Regions from separate parts of the Homo sapiens genome. Here regions 2 and 3 are each linked to region 1. Evidence: fine-mapped expression QTL. A gene starts in region 1. Each other region holds a variant in brackets. All regions are shown on one strand. Distances are from middle to middle. Region 1 holds the start of MYO16-AS1 (MYO16 antisense RNA 1). Region 2 overlaps MYO16 (myosin XVI). Region 3 overlaps LINC03061 (long intergenic non-protein coding RNA 3061).

What was found. PIP is the estimated chance that this variant, and not a neighbour inherited with it, causes the effect.
Region 2: its variant is fine-mapped to the expression of MYO16-AS1 in whole blood (TOPMed, PIP 0.94).
Region 3: its variant is fine-mapped to the expression of MYO16-AS1 in whole blood (INTERVAL, PIP above 0.99). The same link has a PIP of 0.9 or more in tibial nerve.

What each region holds. Positions count from the first base shown.
Region 1 is chr13:109,164,809-109,169,808 of GRCh38, reverse strand. MYO16-AS1 (MYO16 antisense RNA 1) reads left to right here and starts at 2,506. Exons shown (of 3, transcript NR_047700.1): 1 at 2,506-2,790; 2 at 3,099-3,173. It overlaps MYO16 (myosin XVI), which reads right to left. Exons shown (of 35, transcript NM_001198950.3): 33 at 4,750-4,908.
Region 2 is chr13:109,173,773-109,178,772 of GRCh38, reverse strand. All of the region lies in intron 33 of MYO16 (myosin XVI), which reads right to left. Among named protein-coding and RNA genes, the nearest start is that of MYO16-AS1, 9.0 kb to the right of the region's middle. The variant AGACTCCAATCGTGTTGGAG/G (reference allele first, on the strand shown) is at 2,937.
Region 3 is chr13:109,266,326-109,272,550 of GRCh38, reverse strand. It overlaps LINC03061 (long intergenic non-protein coding RNA 3061), which reads right to left. Exons shown (of 2, transcript NR_185883.1): 2 at 1,476-4,940. It overlaps LOC130494219 (a long non-coding RNA gene), which reads right to left and starts at 348. Exons shown (of 2, transcript NR_185888.1): 1 at 132-348. RefSeq lists enhancers at 1,076-1,804, 4,322-5,280. The variant C/T (reference allele first, on the strand shown) is at 3,495.

The DNA of each region.
Region 1 (5,000 bases):
GTACGTGACATTGGAGTTATTTAATCCTTAGAATTTTGGAAACATTTAGTGGAGAAACCATCTGATTCTGGAATTTTCCTTGTAGGAAGGCATTCAATTACAAATTCCATTAATTTAACATTTACGGTGTTATTTAGCTTTCCTACTTCTTTTGTCCATTTTCGTTAGTTCTTTTTTTTTTAAGAATGTATTTGTTTATGTAAATTTGTAAATTTATCTTGGTGTAAAACTGTTTGTAATATTCTCTTACTATTTTTAATTTCAGCCAGATCTGTATTGATGTCCCCTTTTCAATCTAAAATCTGTTATTTGTGCCAATTTTCTCTATTTCTCTATCCCCTTGCAAGAAAATTTTCAATCTTATTGTTTTCAAAGATAATTTTTTAAAAGATAAACAACTTTCTCTTTCCTTCCTTTCTATCCCTTCACATTATTTTATTTGTTTTATATTTCAATAACTTATGTTCTTATTATCACTATCATATCTTTCCTTCCATTTTCATAGTATTTAGTTTTTGTTCTGTTTCTAATTTCTAGACCCTTTTAACACTCATCGTATTTGTTCTCTTGTGATGCAAAGGTTTGAAGCCATACATTTCCATTTCTTAAGAGATCTTTTGCAGTAACATGGATGGAACTGGAGGCCATTATCTTAGGTGAAATAACTAAGACACAGAAAGAAAAATGCTACATGTTCTCACTTATAAGTGGGAGCTAAATAACGTGTACACTTGGGCACAGAGTGTGGAATAATAGACACTGGAGACTCAGAAGGGTGGCAAGGTGGGAGGATGGGATGGAATGAAGCATATGAAACGACTTAATCAGGACAATATATACTATTCAGTTGATGTGGACACTAAAAGCCCAGCCATGGCCACGATGCCATACAGCCACATATTGACCATACCGACACTGTACCCGAGCCCCTTCCACTCATACACAAAAGACATTAGACATGTCCTAAAAGTTCTGTTGTCATATTTGCATTGTCATTAGTTAAAATATTTTGCTTTTTAATTTATTTTGTGATTTCTTCTTGAATACATTGATTACTTAGAGATTTTATTTTATCTTATTTTTTTAGACAAAGTCTGGCTCTGTCACCCAGGCTGGAGTGCAGTGGCGCGATCAGGGCTCACTGCAAACTCCGCCTCCTGGGTTCAAGCAATTCTCCTACCTCAGCTTTCCGAGTCGCCGGGATTAAAGGCATATACCACCAAGCCCAGCTGATTTTTGTATTTTTAGTAGAGATGGGGGTTTCACCATGTTGGCCAGGCTGGTCTCGAACTCCTGACCTCAGGTGATCTGCCTGCCTCGGCCTCCCAAAGTGCTGGGATTGCAGGCGTGAGCCACCGCGCCTGGCCTAGAGATGTAATTTTTGACGTTCAAATATATGAGCACTGTTTTTGCTGCTTTTTAATATTTGCACATTGTATCTTTTTCTTTTCTATCCCTTTACATTTACTCTTTCAGAATCCTTATGTTTTACTGTTTTCAGAAAACTTAGTTTTTAAAATATTCTGCTAATCATTTTTCATATAAGTTTACATTAAATAAGCCTTTTAAAGTTTATTATAATTAAATAAAGTTTATTTTCACATGTGTTTTCATATCTACTGTCTCAGAACTTTCTCCTTGCCCTATTTTTCCTATTTTATCCCCTTTTTGCATCTTTTGAGTTGACTTTTTATGATTTTATTTTTCTCTCTTTACTAGTTTGGATATTATCTACCCCACTAATATTCTTTCAGGGGTTACCTTTGAGGTTACAACTGGCAAGGTAGGTTTATCAGTGTATAATATTAAATATTATTTTACCCCTCCAAATTTTACTGCCTTTTTAGTTATTCTTTATTCTTTCCTTTATCTCTAAGCATTCTGAGTCTGTCAGTGTTTAATTCCTTTCATTTTTATTTTTTTTCCTAAAAATATCCTTAACTCCCTTTCATTATTACAGGAATTTTTGGGGGGCAGTTATTTTATTTGAGCATGTTAACTATGTTATTTCATTGTCTTTGGACTTCAGTTGCTACTTTTCGAAGATAGTACATATTTTTACCTCTAACTGCTTTTAAAATTAATTCTCGGTCTTTATTTTATAGGTGTTTTACTATGATACACCTAGGAAAGTTTTATGTATCCTACTTAGGCTTTGCAAAGGTTTCTGTTTCATTTTTACAAACGTTGGATTGATTATGGTGTAATTTAGAGACAGTGAGATTCACCTTTTTTAGACATACACATCTGTGCATCTGCAGACATGAGCACTCCAGGTTGTCTATAACACCACATGTCCTTCTGAACTTCATCTCCTGCCATTACGCCCAGCCTCCAGCAACCACTCAGCTGTTTTCTGTCTCCAGCTTTGCTTTTCCCCAAATGTTACATAAGCAGGATCACACTTAGTCTTTTGATTTTTTTTTTTTAACCTCAACACAATGCTTTAGCCATCCCTTTTTTTTATGATGCTCATTATAGTTGATCACTCTTATTTATTGCAGGCTTCATCCATGTGCTAGTTCAGCCTGTGAGATGCTGGTGAGCCCACCTCCAGGCACTCACGGACTCCCCACCCATTGAGTGTGGCCTGGATTTAGTGACTCAATCAAACGTGACAGAGTGCTGGGGTGTCATTTTCAAGACTGGGTTATGTGAAGACTGCAGCCTCCATCTGGGGTGCTCTCTCTTGGATTGCTTGCTCAGGGATGTGGGGAGAGCTGCTGTGCTGGGAGGCTGCCCATGTGAGTTGACTTGGATGTGAACCTTCTGTGGCCTGCCAATAGCCACGTGAGTGACCTTGAAAATGGATCAGCCTTCACTCAAGTCTCAAGATGACTGTGGTCTTGGCTGACAGCTTGATTGCTGTCTCATGGGGGACCTTAAACCAAAGGCACCCTGCTAAGCCACACACAGCTTCCTGGCCCACAGAAACTATGAAATAATAACCATTTCTTATATAAGCCTCCAAGTTTTGGGAGTAATATTTTGCACAGTGATGGATCACTAATACAAGCCAGTCATCAGTTGAAAGACACTGAATTTATTTCCAGTTTTATGTGATTATGAATAATGTCACCATATGCATTTGCATACAGGTGTTTGTGTGGACACTGCTGTCATTTCTCTTGGGAAGATACTGAGGAGTCAGATTGCTGGATCCCGTGAAGAATGTATGTTGAATGTTATAAAAATCTGCCAACTTAAATCTGTTTCCTGGTGCTCTTTCGTCAGCATTGGGAGATGCTCTAACATTTCTCACCAAGTCTTTCTTCTGCTCATGCGCTCCCTCTTCTTTCCCTAAGACTTCAATCATCCTCCTCATTGCCCTTTATATCTCTAAACCATTGTCTGGAGTTTCCATTCTTCCCTTTTGCTTCAATCTGTTTCATTCTGGGGATTTTCTGAGTTATCTTCCACTTCTCCAGTTATTTTTTATTTGTTTTGTTTTTAAACAACTATATCTAATTAAATTTAACTTTATCCTCTGTTGTACTCAATTTTATTACTGCATTTTCCAATTTCAGAATTTCCATTTGACGATTTCCTTATAGTTTCCTATTTCTGCTGAAATTCTCGTTGTTTTATTTCGTGGGGGGCTGAGTAAACATACTTATTTTAAGGCATGTGTCTTTGAATTCCAACCTTTTGAATCCCTGTGGACATATTGCAATTGGCTGCCGTCTCTGCTTTTAATTTTTTATCTTATTTTGTGTGCTCCTATGCCTGGTTATTTCTAACTGTGTTGGACTTTGCATTTGAAAAATGGTTTCTATGAATGTTTTGAAGCCTAGGATGCTATTACTGCCCTTTGGGGAAAATGTACACGTGTTTCTCCCAGGTACCTGTAGGCCTGGTTACATCTGGGCAACTCAACATGGTTCTTGGTTCTGGTTCACTCTGACTCTTGGGAAGAACACTTGAAGGCCCCACCCCAAGGCCTTGGTGGGGCCACGACTCAGTTTCTTGCCCTGTAATTTGAGAAGGCAGTCAGAAGCACAACTTGACTTCTTAGCTGCCTTCTCTGAACAATGTGGGTACCCTTATGTCCCCATGAGCCAAGCTTCAAGTGTGGGCTTCCTTGCTTCGGCTCACCTTGCACCCCACTCCCAGGTCTTCAACTGCTTCCCAGCATTTCAGCATCATGATGGTTCTCCCACGCCTCTAATTAGACTAAACAAACATGCTTTTCCCAGCCCTGCGGGAGGCCCTCAGGAATAGTTGGTCTGAGTCTTCCCATCAGTTATTCCCAGACGCCTTTGTCTTCTTTTATTTGTGAGAGAAAATACTTGCGTGATCCTCAGCTTTTGTACCTGCAATCAAGCCACTTTCTAAATGTGGCACTCATTGATGTACTTAAAATACCTGAAGCCAGTCTGGCACTTATCATTTCTTTAATATTATTTTCCTTCACATTTCTTAGTTTCCAGAATAATTTTTTAATTAAAAATATTGGTAGAGAATCTATTGCCTTCTTCTGCTCAGTATAAGACTAATTTTGGACCAGTTCTTTTAGATTAACACTCCATAAAATTTCGGAAAAGTCAACAAGGAGTGAATAGAATTCCAATTCTTTAACTGAAGCAATCATATGCTGACAATAATACTTGCAGGGGAGTTTCATGGTTTATATTCTATTTTCCAGTTCTTAACCCTACTTCATTTTCATATTTTAAATCCATTCCTCCCAGAAAGTTGATACAGCCTAAAACTTTTGTACATTTACTTCTGAGTTTAAAAAGTGCTTACCATTTGAGATGGAATTTCCATTTTCAGCAGTTATAGCACTAGATAGTGAATTAGATAACTGAATTCCATGGTTATTTGCATTTCTGTCTTGAGTCTCGGAAGTAATTTCTGACGTACTAGGGTCATCTCGGCTACTTATGTTCATGTTAGTTTCAAAACCTAAAATAAATTTTAGAAAACATAATTATTTTCTGATAACATGTACTGAATATACTGAATAAAACATTTGGAGAAAATAATAAAACATCAAA
Region 2 (5,000 bases), 9.0 kb before region 1:
GATGCCAGCAGCACCCCCATTTGTGGCACCCAGAAATGTTCCCAGACATTGCCAAAAGTTCCTTGGAGGGCAAAGTCATCCCCTCCTACACGGGCTGAGAATCACTGTGATACAGGCGCAATGCATCACCGCAAGTGACTTCGATTAATAAACATGAATAGACAAAAAGAGAAATAAGAACCCAACAAAATGAATTCAACTCAGAGAACTTTAAATACTGAAGTGATTACTACTCTCCTCTGAAAGCATAATTAACTAGCACAGGTAATTGATTAAACATATACATAATTCCTAAATTAAAAATCATTAGACAATCAGTGCACGCTTTTCCAATTATAGGAGAGAGTTCCTCAGGGAAGTCGACACAATCCTGTCAACACACAACAAGGCCTTCCAGGTGATCTTGTTACATGTCCAGATACCTTGGTATGGAAAAGCTAACTTCATGAAGACTGGGCGGACAATGGCTAGTGGGTGGGGGGGGTCTCTTGCTGGAGAACAGATCTCGGCCACAGGCAGCAGCAGTAGCCTCAGGTGCTACGTGGCAATAGTGTCCTTAGACACTGTGGTGGCAGGACACAGGAAAGGCTCCAATCACAGTGAGTGTCAGAGCAGCCTGAAATTCACACAGGCGGAAGGGAGTGTGTCAATCCAAGATCAGGCACAATATGAAATTTCAGGAAACTAGATAAAGCAGATAGTTGGAAAAAAAATGTGTTTCCGGGTAGTAGGGCACAACAAAGGGCTTGGGATTCATGTGAAGGACCACCTCTTAGAGGGGAATAAAGGATGGGGTGCTGGGAGGAAGGGGCTGATTGATAAGCAAGATAAACCTTCACTTCTATAGGAACCATAAAGAAACCAGTTCACCAGATGTCTTACTAAGACAGGGGATCTGTGGCAGGAGAAGACAAATGTGATCCATTTTTCAAACCTAAATTATAAATTAGAAGTCGGGGCTGGGTGCACTGGCTCACGCCTGTAATCCCAGTACTTTGGGAGGCTAAGGTGGCGGATCACCTGAGGTCAGGAGATCGAGACCAGCCCAGCCAACACGGTGAAATCCCATCTCTACTAAAAATACAAAATTACCCGGGCACGGTGGTGCACACCTGTAGTCTCAGCTACTCAGGAGGCTGAGGCAGGAGAATCGCTTGAACCTGGGAGGGAGAGTTGCAGTGAGCCAAGGTTGCTCCATTGCACCCCAGCCTGGGTGACAGAGTGAGACTCCATCTCAACATAAATAAATAAATAATAAATAAATAAATAAATACATAAAATTAGAAGTTGGATCTCAGAATCAAAACAGAAACTCAGTTGAAAGGGTATAAGCTCAGAGCGGAATCGATAGCCTGCTGAGCACTGCATAGAGTCAATTAAATTAAGGTTAAAAACATTTATGAGCAACCGCTGCATAAGGCGCTGAGAAATACAAGGAAGAACGAAGAAAAGTCCCCACCCTTGAGAAAGTCAATTCAGTGAGAATGGCACTGAGGCCAAACACACAGCAGCATGATTTCAGGATTAAGAGGAGTACAGGTCACGTTGAACAGGGTCTTGGAGAAGGTAAGGATGCATTCTGATGGAACGGACTAGAGTAAACTTCATGGTGGTGTTGCTAAAGGACCTGGGCCTTCGAGGAGGAGGAGAATTGTGGAGGGCGAACAAAGTCGAGAAGGACATGCCTGGCTGAGAGCACAAATGTGATAAGGCAACAAAACACAAGGACGCTTCGCGGAAATGTGACCACACTTTGGAGACGATAGGTAGCACTGCAGACTTCCCAGAAGAGAAGTGACACCATTTTATCTAAGTAATGAGTTCAAAGGTATTTCATTCATAACTGTTGACTAAAGAAAGAATGGGTCCCAGAACCTGTGTCAGGGCTCCACAGACAGGGACATATGGCAGCTTGGGCAGGTGGTCGCATGCAGGTGGAGGGCCAGGTGAGGACAGCGGGGAGGGAGGCAGGTGAGTGGGTGCTGGGGGAGACGGGCATGTGGAGGAGGGGGTGGGACAAGCGACTGGGCCCGAGAAGTCAGAGGGAAGGGGATTTTTTGAAGGTTGTAGCAAACAGGCCAAGGGTCCTCATCACGGCCAACGCAGTAACATTTTGAGAACTGGAAGGGACAAAGTGACGGCCAGGAAGCGCCAAAGGTGCAAAGGAGGTCTTTTTTTTTTTTTTTTTTTTTTTTACCAGCACAATATTTTATTTAGCTGCCGTATTAGAAGCAGTACCTTTTTAAGGCAAATTATTTTAAAATGACACCAAACGCACAAACCATGAATAAAAAAAAAGAAAACGGATTCATGTCTCTCTATAAACATTAAAAATAAACATATTGACAATGCCCTAAAAATAAAATGTGTATTTTAAAAGAACAATGTAGAACATTGAAATATATTAAATAAGAGGCTTTTTTAATTCTTCAAACATCCTACAGATCCCAGATATTAAAAAATGGACAAAGAATAAAAGTTTAGAAAATAAAGGAGAAAAAATATGAAAATATGAATGGCTAATAAGTAATACACATATTCAATTTCATTAAGAATTCCAAGTAATGGATATGAGACTACGTAACATTCATTCTATCTATCAAAATAACACAGTTTTAAAACTTTTTATTACAAACATTTCAGACATAAAGAGAATATGCAGTGAAACTCCATGCACCCATTCCAAGCCTTGGGGCTGTCAATTTTATCCATTTTTATCCATTTTTTATTCATTTTTCACTTAAATCCCAGAAATCATGTCATTTCAGCTGTAAATGTTTGTACATGTGTCCTTAACTGACAAGAACTTTTTTTTTTTTAACATAGCAAGGATTTTCTCACGCAGCTAAAGGGAACATTGCTAAGCAAAGGCCTCCAGAAAAGTCCCACAGTCCTGCGTGGGTAGAGAATCCCACGGCGCATTTTAACCAGGGTGA[AGACTCCAATCGTGTTGGAG/G]GAACATTTAAAGTGAAGATGGAGCTCTTTATCTGTGCCTTCATTAAAAGGTGGAATTCTGTCTGAGAAGGAGCTTCTGCACATTCTGAGAAGCCCCCACTGCTCCTCTTACTGTAGCAGCCTTCTCCCCAGACCAGGCTTGGAGTTAACAATTCCCAGCTTAGAGATTCATGTGTCCCTTGCTGAACACATTCTTTCCAGGGCAATAGTGTGCTTCAAAAAGTTGAGCTTTTGGTCCATTATGATACCAAACTATTTCAAAAAGCCATTCTTGCCCAAATGACAGCAAATCAAGGTCTTCTGAAACTGCGTCCACCCTACTCTACCCTCCAGATAGCCAGCTCTTCTGCTCAAAGAAAACATGCAGATGTTCAGGGGAAGGAATTCCCCAAAGCTGATCTCCATGGCATAATGGATATGCTGTGGACACTCCATAGAACCTGCTGCTGCTCCTTCAAACTTGGGTGGGCAAAAGTCGAAAAGGCTTTGGCCTTGATTGAAGGTTTAGCAGGAAGAAGCAGCCTCTGTTCTCCCTCTCCTCCTGAATTGGAGGCTGCTCAGAGCACTGAAAGTTAAACCTTCCTGCAGGACACAAAGAGGAATGGCTTTTAGGACATCCTCCTCATCACTGTGGTGTAGACCTGGTCCCTGGAGTTCTGTGTGATTTTTAAAGAAGTAATTTTGAAAAGTGGCAGACTCTGGGGCCATGAGGTCTACATGCAGAGCGTAGTGGGTTCATGTAAATTCTTATAAAAAGAAAAGAATGAGGGCTGGGTGCAGTGGCTCACGCCTGTAATACCAGCACTTTGAGAGGCTGAGGCGGGCAGATCACGAGGTCAGCAGATCAAGACCATTCTGGCTAACACGGTGAAACCCTGCCTCTACTAAAAAAAATACAAAAAAAAAAATGTGGTGGCATGCGCCTGTAGTCCCAGCTACTCGGGAGGCTGAGGCTGAAGAATCACTTGAACCTGGGAGGCGGAGTTTGCAGTGAGTTGAGATTGTGCCACTGCACTCCAGCCTGGGCGACAGAGCAAGACTCCATCTCAAAAAAAAAAAAAAAAAAAAAGACAAGACAAGAATGAGAAAGAGACTTTCAAGGGGGGTATGGCACTGAATTTTACATGGCTGACCGGTTAGAATCTATTAGTCAAATCTGTCATTTTGTAGGGACCCAAACTTGTTTAGTCAATGGCAAGAGGGTTTGAATTCTCTTTTTACATCTGTCCAGCTTTCCAAGTATTCCATCACCTTTAAATCCACTACCCTCTTGATTTCCATGAAATTGGACATCTGTCTTCTATCTCTTGAGCACCTATTGTATGTCTCCATTTCCCCCCTTCTCAATGTAAATTTCTCAAACTTTGGCATTCTGAGTGGTTTAGTGGTCATATTTCTTTTCTTATTTCTCTTTATGATTGTTCCTCTGATGCTATAAATAACCACCATGTCTCCAGCTTCTTTAAAAATTCTGGCTTTTCTCTTTCTATCCTGGAACCCTGGCCTAAACTCCAAACCTGTCATCATCATTTATGGAAAAATCATCCATAATCAGAAGTCCTTTTCTCTTGAGCTCCAAATCCGCTTATAGAATTAACCTCCTTTGGGAATTGCCCTTCCCTTCTTAAGAGTGCTGTATTCTCCCATCATTTGCCTCAAATTCTTGGAGTCGTTCTTGACACCTTCCTCTTCTTGACTCCTACACCAATACAGTCTTTAATACTCTTGCTTCATGTACAAAACCTGCCAAGGCTTAAGTAGTGAATGAATTCAAAACTGGCACCCCCAAACTCAGTTTCCAATTCTATTGTTCACCCTGGATAGTACAATCAGGTACACTTTTCCAAAACAGCAGAGAGTACCCCCCCCCATCAAAACAAGGACAACCCTTTCAGAGATACTCTTTTTTTTTTTTTTTTTTTTTTTTTTTGAGATGGAGTCTCGCTCTGTCACCCAGGCTGGAGCGCAGTGGCGCGATCTCGGCTCACTGCAAGCTCTGCCTCCCAGGTTCACTCCTGCCTCAGCCTCCCAAGTAGCTGGGACTA
Region 3 (6,225 bases), 100 kb before region 1:
CACCTTGATTGAAGTTCTGACTGTGGTCTTGCTAAGAATTCTTCTGGAATATGATCCCTTTTGCTTGTCTCTTCAGCTTGCTTGGCAACTTTCTACCCACTTTCCTCAAAATTCCGAGACATCAGACTCACCTCCAGTTCATCTCCAGTTCATGTGACAGCTGCTGTCCCTGCTGGTGAAGTGGCTGTGCTGTCTGGGGTATACACCCTGGGGTTCATCGTCACACACCAAGAATTCAGGACACAATCACATGTGGGTGGGTTAGGGAGTGGAAAATTTAATAGATAGAAGAAAGGAGAGAGGAGAGCAGCTCTTAGAGAGAGAGAGAGAGAGAGACATCTGAAAAGTGGGGAGGCAGTGGACCAAAACAGATATAATAAGTTGGAGAAGGCGGTGTCTGATTTACATAGGGCTCACAGACTGGTTCCATCAGGTATGACGTCTACATAGTGTGCGGGGGAAGGCTGGTTGCCCCACCCTAATCTAATTATGCAAATAGGCTTTCCAGTTGATCAGAGCCATCTTCTCTGCTCCTTACAATACACTTGGCTGGCAGGGAAGGGAAGATGGAGCCACCAGTTTGAAAATGTCTAGTCCTTAGTTCCTGCTGGCATTCACCTATGCAAGCTCCCAGCTTGCAGGCTGCTCTTTGTTAGAAAATGACTTGGGGCTGCTTTTCATTAAAAAGAAAAGCCTTACCCAGGACTCCCATGCCCTTGCTATCTGCCTAAGCAATTCCTTCTTAACTCCTATATCCCTGGGGAGATGGTAGGAGTGCTGCCCCTGTCTCCTTGCTTGAGAGGGGAACTGCCCCAGGGAACCACCGCCATCTTTCTCTATTGCCTGTGTGACTGCAGCATGGTGAGGTTCTAAGTCCCTGTACCCCTTTTGACTAAGGATGTTTTCCTTCTTCCCCATGATTTTGCTGGAGAATGAGAGGCAGAATTAAAACGTGCTGCATTTGTATTCAGATGTAAAGTTTGTGTCTCTGCAGAAAGCATTGCTTGTGTAGAGAAGGAAAGCATATTGTTTTAGTCCACAGGGGAGCTAGAAATGTGATCAGTCATCAGAATAAGGCAGATGTGTGCTAAATATTTCAGTCACTTATTAGCAGATAATTTATTGGCTTATTATCAAATGTAGCAAATATTTGCCATGTCTGCTTTGGGTTACTTTTTTTGGGAAGCCTTAGGCCGATTTTTGGCAACAGGGATTGAAAACATTTTACCACTTCCCTTACTGAAAAGGCCTTGTTGCCTGGGTGGGTGCCCAAGTCGTTGGTCTCACAGCTGAGGAAATCGACGATGCAGACACACCAAGGACGAGGTCAGAGCAGAAGCAGAAGTTTAACAGGTGAAAGAAAGAGAACAGTTCTCTGCTGCAGAGAGGGGTCCCAGAAAGGGTTGCCGTCCCACAGTAAAATGAAAGGGTTTTTTTCATGCGCGTCCGTGTGAAGAGACACCAAACAGGCTTTGTGTGAGCAACATGGCTGTTTATTTCACCTGGGGGCAGGCGGGCTGAGTCCGAAAAGAGAGTCAGCGAAGGGAGATAGGGGTGGGGCCGTTTTATAGGATTTGGGAAGGTAATGGAAAATTACAGTCAAAGGGGGTTGTTCTCTGGTGGGCAGGGGCGGGGGTCACAAGGTGCTCAGTGGGGGAGCTTCTGAGCCAGGAGAAGGAAATTCACAGGGTTAATCACTCAGTTAAGGTGGGGCAAGAACAAATCACCATGGTGGAATGTCATCAGTTAAGGCGGGGCAGGGCCTTTTCAGTTCTTTTGTGATTCTTCAGTTACTTCAGGCCATCTGGGCGTATACGTGCAAGTCACAGGGGATGCGATGGCTTGGCTTGGGCTCAGAGGCCTGACATTCCTGCCTTCTTATATTAATAAGAAAAATAAAACAAAATTGTGTTGAAGTGTTGGGGCGGTGAAAATTTTTGGGGGGTGGTATGGAGAGAGAATGGGCGATGTTTCTCAGGGCTGCTTCAAGCGGGATTAGGGGCGGCGTGGGAACCTAGAGTGGGAGAGATTAAGCTGAAGGGAGGTCTTGTGGTAAGGGGTGACATTGAGGGGGTTGTTAGAAGAAACATTTGTCATACAGAAAGATTGGTGATGGCCTGGATACGGTTTTGTATGAACTGAAAAACTAAATGGAATAAGAGAAGGAGAAAAACAGGTATAAAAGGACTAAGAATTGGGAGGATCTAGGACATCTAATTAGAGAATGCCTAAGGAGGTTCAGCATAGTCCTTCCAGCGAAGATTATTTATTTACTTCAAGAGTTAAGAGTGGCAGTTTGGGGATAGCATGAGGAGATATCAGCCATGATGGCTTGGAGAAACAGTGTAAACTGGCAGTGTAAACAAGAGCAGGGCATGTATGAGTAGTTGAGAACGGAGAATAGGAGTATGACTAGACGGAAAATAGTAGGGATGACAAGTTTTTTTGGGGGCACAGTCTAAGTTGGTCTGGTGTCTGGGATGAGACTGGGGCCTAATAAAAAGGAGCTTAAATGGACTGTACCTTGTAGCATTCTGAGGACAGGTCTGACTTCTGAGAAGGGAAAGTGGTAAAAGTATTGTCCAGTTCTTTTTAAGTTGGTGGCTGAGCTTGGTGAGGTGTGTTTTTAAAAGACCTTTAGTCCGTTCTACTTTTCTTGAAGACAGAGGACTATAAGGGATATAAACTGAAAAACTGCTTGGCTAATTTGACTAATAAAGCCTGGTCTGTTATCAGACTGTATAGAGGTGGGAAGGCTAAACTGAGGAATTATGTCTGACAGAAGGGAAGAAATGACTGCGGTGGCCTTCTCAGACCCTGTAGGAAAGGCCTCTACCTATCTAGTGAAAATGTCTACTTAGACTAAGAGGTATTTTAGTTTTTGTGACTCGGGGCATGTGGAGTAAAGCTAATTTGCCAGTCCTGGGCGGGGGCAAATCCTCGAGCTTGATGTGTAGGGAAGGGAGGGGCCTGAATGATCCTTGAGGAGTAGCAGAATAGCAGATAGAATAGCAGATGGAACACTGAGAAGTTATTTCCTTGAGGATAGATTTCTACAATGGAAAGGAAATGAGAGGTTCTAAGAGATGGGCTAGTGGCTTGTAATATGGGGAAATGGGGTGAATGTCAGGTGGATCAGAGAGATGCAGTCATGGGGATCAGGTGTGGTATCAGGAATAATGTGGGAGGCCAGATTGAAGTCTGGGCCAGGAACAATGGTAATTGTGGGACTTAACAAAGAATGAGTACAGCTGAAGGAGCCGGGGAGCAGAAAGTATATGCGTCAGGTATGAGGAAGAAAATAGATTTTGGAAGTTATGAGAAATGTAGAGAGTGAGTTGAACATAGTTTGTGATTTTTAGGGCCTCTAAAATTATTAAAGCAGCGGCAGCTGCTGCATGCAGACATGAGGGCTAGGCTAAAACAGTAAGGTCAAGTTGTTTGGACAGAAAGGCTACAGGGTGGGGTCCTGGCTCTTGTGTAAGAATTCTGAC[C/T]GCACTAACCATGCCTAGGAAGGAAAGGAGTTGTTGTTTTGTAAGGGATTGAGGTTTGGGAGATTAATCAGACACCATCAGCAGGGAGAGCACCTGTGTTTTTGTGAAGAATTATGCCGAGGTAGGTAACGGATGGAGAAGAAATTTGAGCTTTGGAGGGGGATACCCGATATCCTTTGGAGAATAAATGCTGAAGGAGCAGAAGTATGTCTTGTTGAGAAGATTCAAAGGAGGGGCTACAAAGAAGAAGGTCATCAATATATTGAATAAGGTGAGAAGTGGAGGGGTGGAAAGAAAGTAGATCATGAGAAAGAGCTTGGCTGAAGTAATGAGGGCTGTCCCTGGAACCTTGCGGCAGCACAGCCCAGGTAAGCTGCTGAGCCTAATGGGTGTCAGGGTCAGTCTAAGTGAAGGCAAAGAGAGGCTGAGATGAAGAGTGCAAAGGAATAGTAAAGAAAGCATGTTTGAGATCCAGAACAGAATAATGGGTAGTAGAGGGAGGTATTGAGGATAGGAGAGTATATGGGTTTGGCACCACGGGGTGGATAGGCAAAACAATTTGGTTGATAAGGCACAGATTCTGAACTAAGTTGTAAGCCTTGTCTGGTTTTAGGACAGGTAAAACGGGGGAATTGTAAGGAGAGTTTATAGGCTTTAAAAGGCCATGCTGTAGCAGGTGAGTGATAACAGGCTTTAATCCTTTCAAAGCATGCTGTGGGATGGGATATTGGCATTGAGTCGGGTAAGCGTGATTAGGTTTTAATGAGATGGTAAGGGGTGCATGATCGGTCGCCAAGGAGGGAGTAGAGGTATCTTATACTTGTGGGTTAAGGTGGGGGAATACAAGAGGAGGACGCAAAGGAGGCTTTGGATTGGGAAGAAGGGCAGCAATGAGATGCAGCTGTAGTCCAGGAATAGTCAGGGAAGCAGATAATTTGGTTAAAATATCTCGGCCTGATAAGGGAACTGGGCAGGTGGAGATAACTAAAAAAGAGTGCATAAAAGAGTGTTGTTCAAGTTGGCACCAGAGTTGGGGAGTTTTAAGAGGTTTAGAAGCCTGGCTGTCAATACCCACAACAGTTATGGAGGCAAGGGAAACAGGCCCTTGAAAAGAAGGTAATGTGGAGTGGGTAGCCTCCATATTGATTAAGAAGGGGACAGACTTACCCTCCACTGTGAGAGTTACCTAAAGCTCGGTGTCCATGGTGGTCTACAGGGCTTCTGAGGCGATCAGGCAGCGTCAGTCTTCAGCCACTAAGCCAAGAAGGAGTCAGTCAGAGAGCCTTGGGCCAGAGTTCCAGGGGCGCTGGGAGTGGCTGCCAGGTGAGTTGAACAGTCCGATTTCCAGTGGGGTCCCGCACAGATGGGACATGGCTTAGGAGGAATCCCTGGGCTGCAGGCATTCCTTGCCCTGGTGGTCAGATTTCTGGCACTTGCAGCAAGCTCCTGGGGGAGGAGGTTCTGGAGGAATGTCTGGCCACTGCGGTTCAGGCATTTGGAAGTTGTTGTGTGCTGGAGATGTGGCTGGGGTTTGTCTCACAGTGGAGGCAAGGAATTGCAACTTCCTTTTTTTTATTATTGTACACCTTGAAGGTGAGGTTAATTAAGTCCTGTTGTGGGGTTTGAGGGCCAGATTCTAATTTTTGGAGTTTTATTTAATGTCGGGAGCAGATTGGGTAATAAAATGTGTATTGAGAATAAGATGGCCTTTTGACCTTTTAGGGTCTAGGGCTGTAAAGCATCTCAGGGTTGCTGCCGAACGAGACATGAACTGGGCTGGGTTTTTATATTTGATGAAAAAGAGCCTAAACGCTTCTGATTTGGGATAAAGAAAAAGGAGCATTAACCTTGACTATGCCTTTGGCTCCAGCCACCTTTTTAAGAGTAAATTGCTGGGCAGGTGGGGGAGGGCTAGTCACAGAACGAAACTGTAAGCCAGACCAGGTGTGAGGAGGGGAGGCGATAAAAAGATTACAGGGTGGAGGAGCGGAGGCTGAGGAAGAATTGGGACCTAGCTTGGCCTGGCAAGGAGGGGAGAGGTCAGATGGGTCTGTAGAAAAGGAAGATTAGAAAGACTCAGTGACGCTTGGGGTTGGGACTGAGGGGACAGGCGGGAGGGAAAGAAGGAAGATTCAGAATGAGTTGCACTGGGCACAGAGACTAGGAAGGGACTGATGTGTAAAAGAATGCCTGGATGTCAGGCACCTCAGACCATTTGCCCATTTTATGACAAGAATTATTTAGATCTTGTAGGATGGAAAAATTGAAAGTGCCGTTTTCCGGCTATTTGGAACTACTGTAGAGTTTGTATTGGGGTCAAGAGGCATTGCAGAAGAAAATGAGACACTTAGATTTTAGGTCAGGTGAGAGTTGAAGAGGTTTTAAGTTCTTAAGAATACAGGCTAAGGGAGAAGAAGGAGGAATGGAAGGTGGAAGCTTGCCCATAGTGAAGGAGGCAAGCCCAGAGAAAAGAGTAGAGACACGGAGAAGGGGTGGGGGTTTCTTGCCCTCCAGAAAAGCAGAGAAAGGGTTGGGGCACAGAAATAAGGGATTGGGGCACAGAGATAAGAGGTCAGGGTGTGGAAATAAGGGATTGGGGGTTCTTGCCCCCTAGAAAAGTGGGAAGGGGGGTTGGGGCATGGAAATAAGGGATTGGGGCACAGAGATAAGAGGTTGGGGTGTGGAAATAAGGGATTGGGTCACAGAAATAAGAGGTCGGGGTGTGGAAATA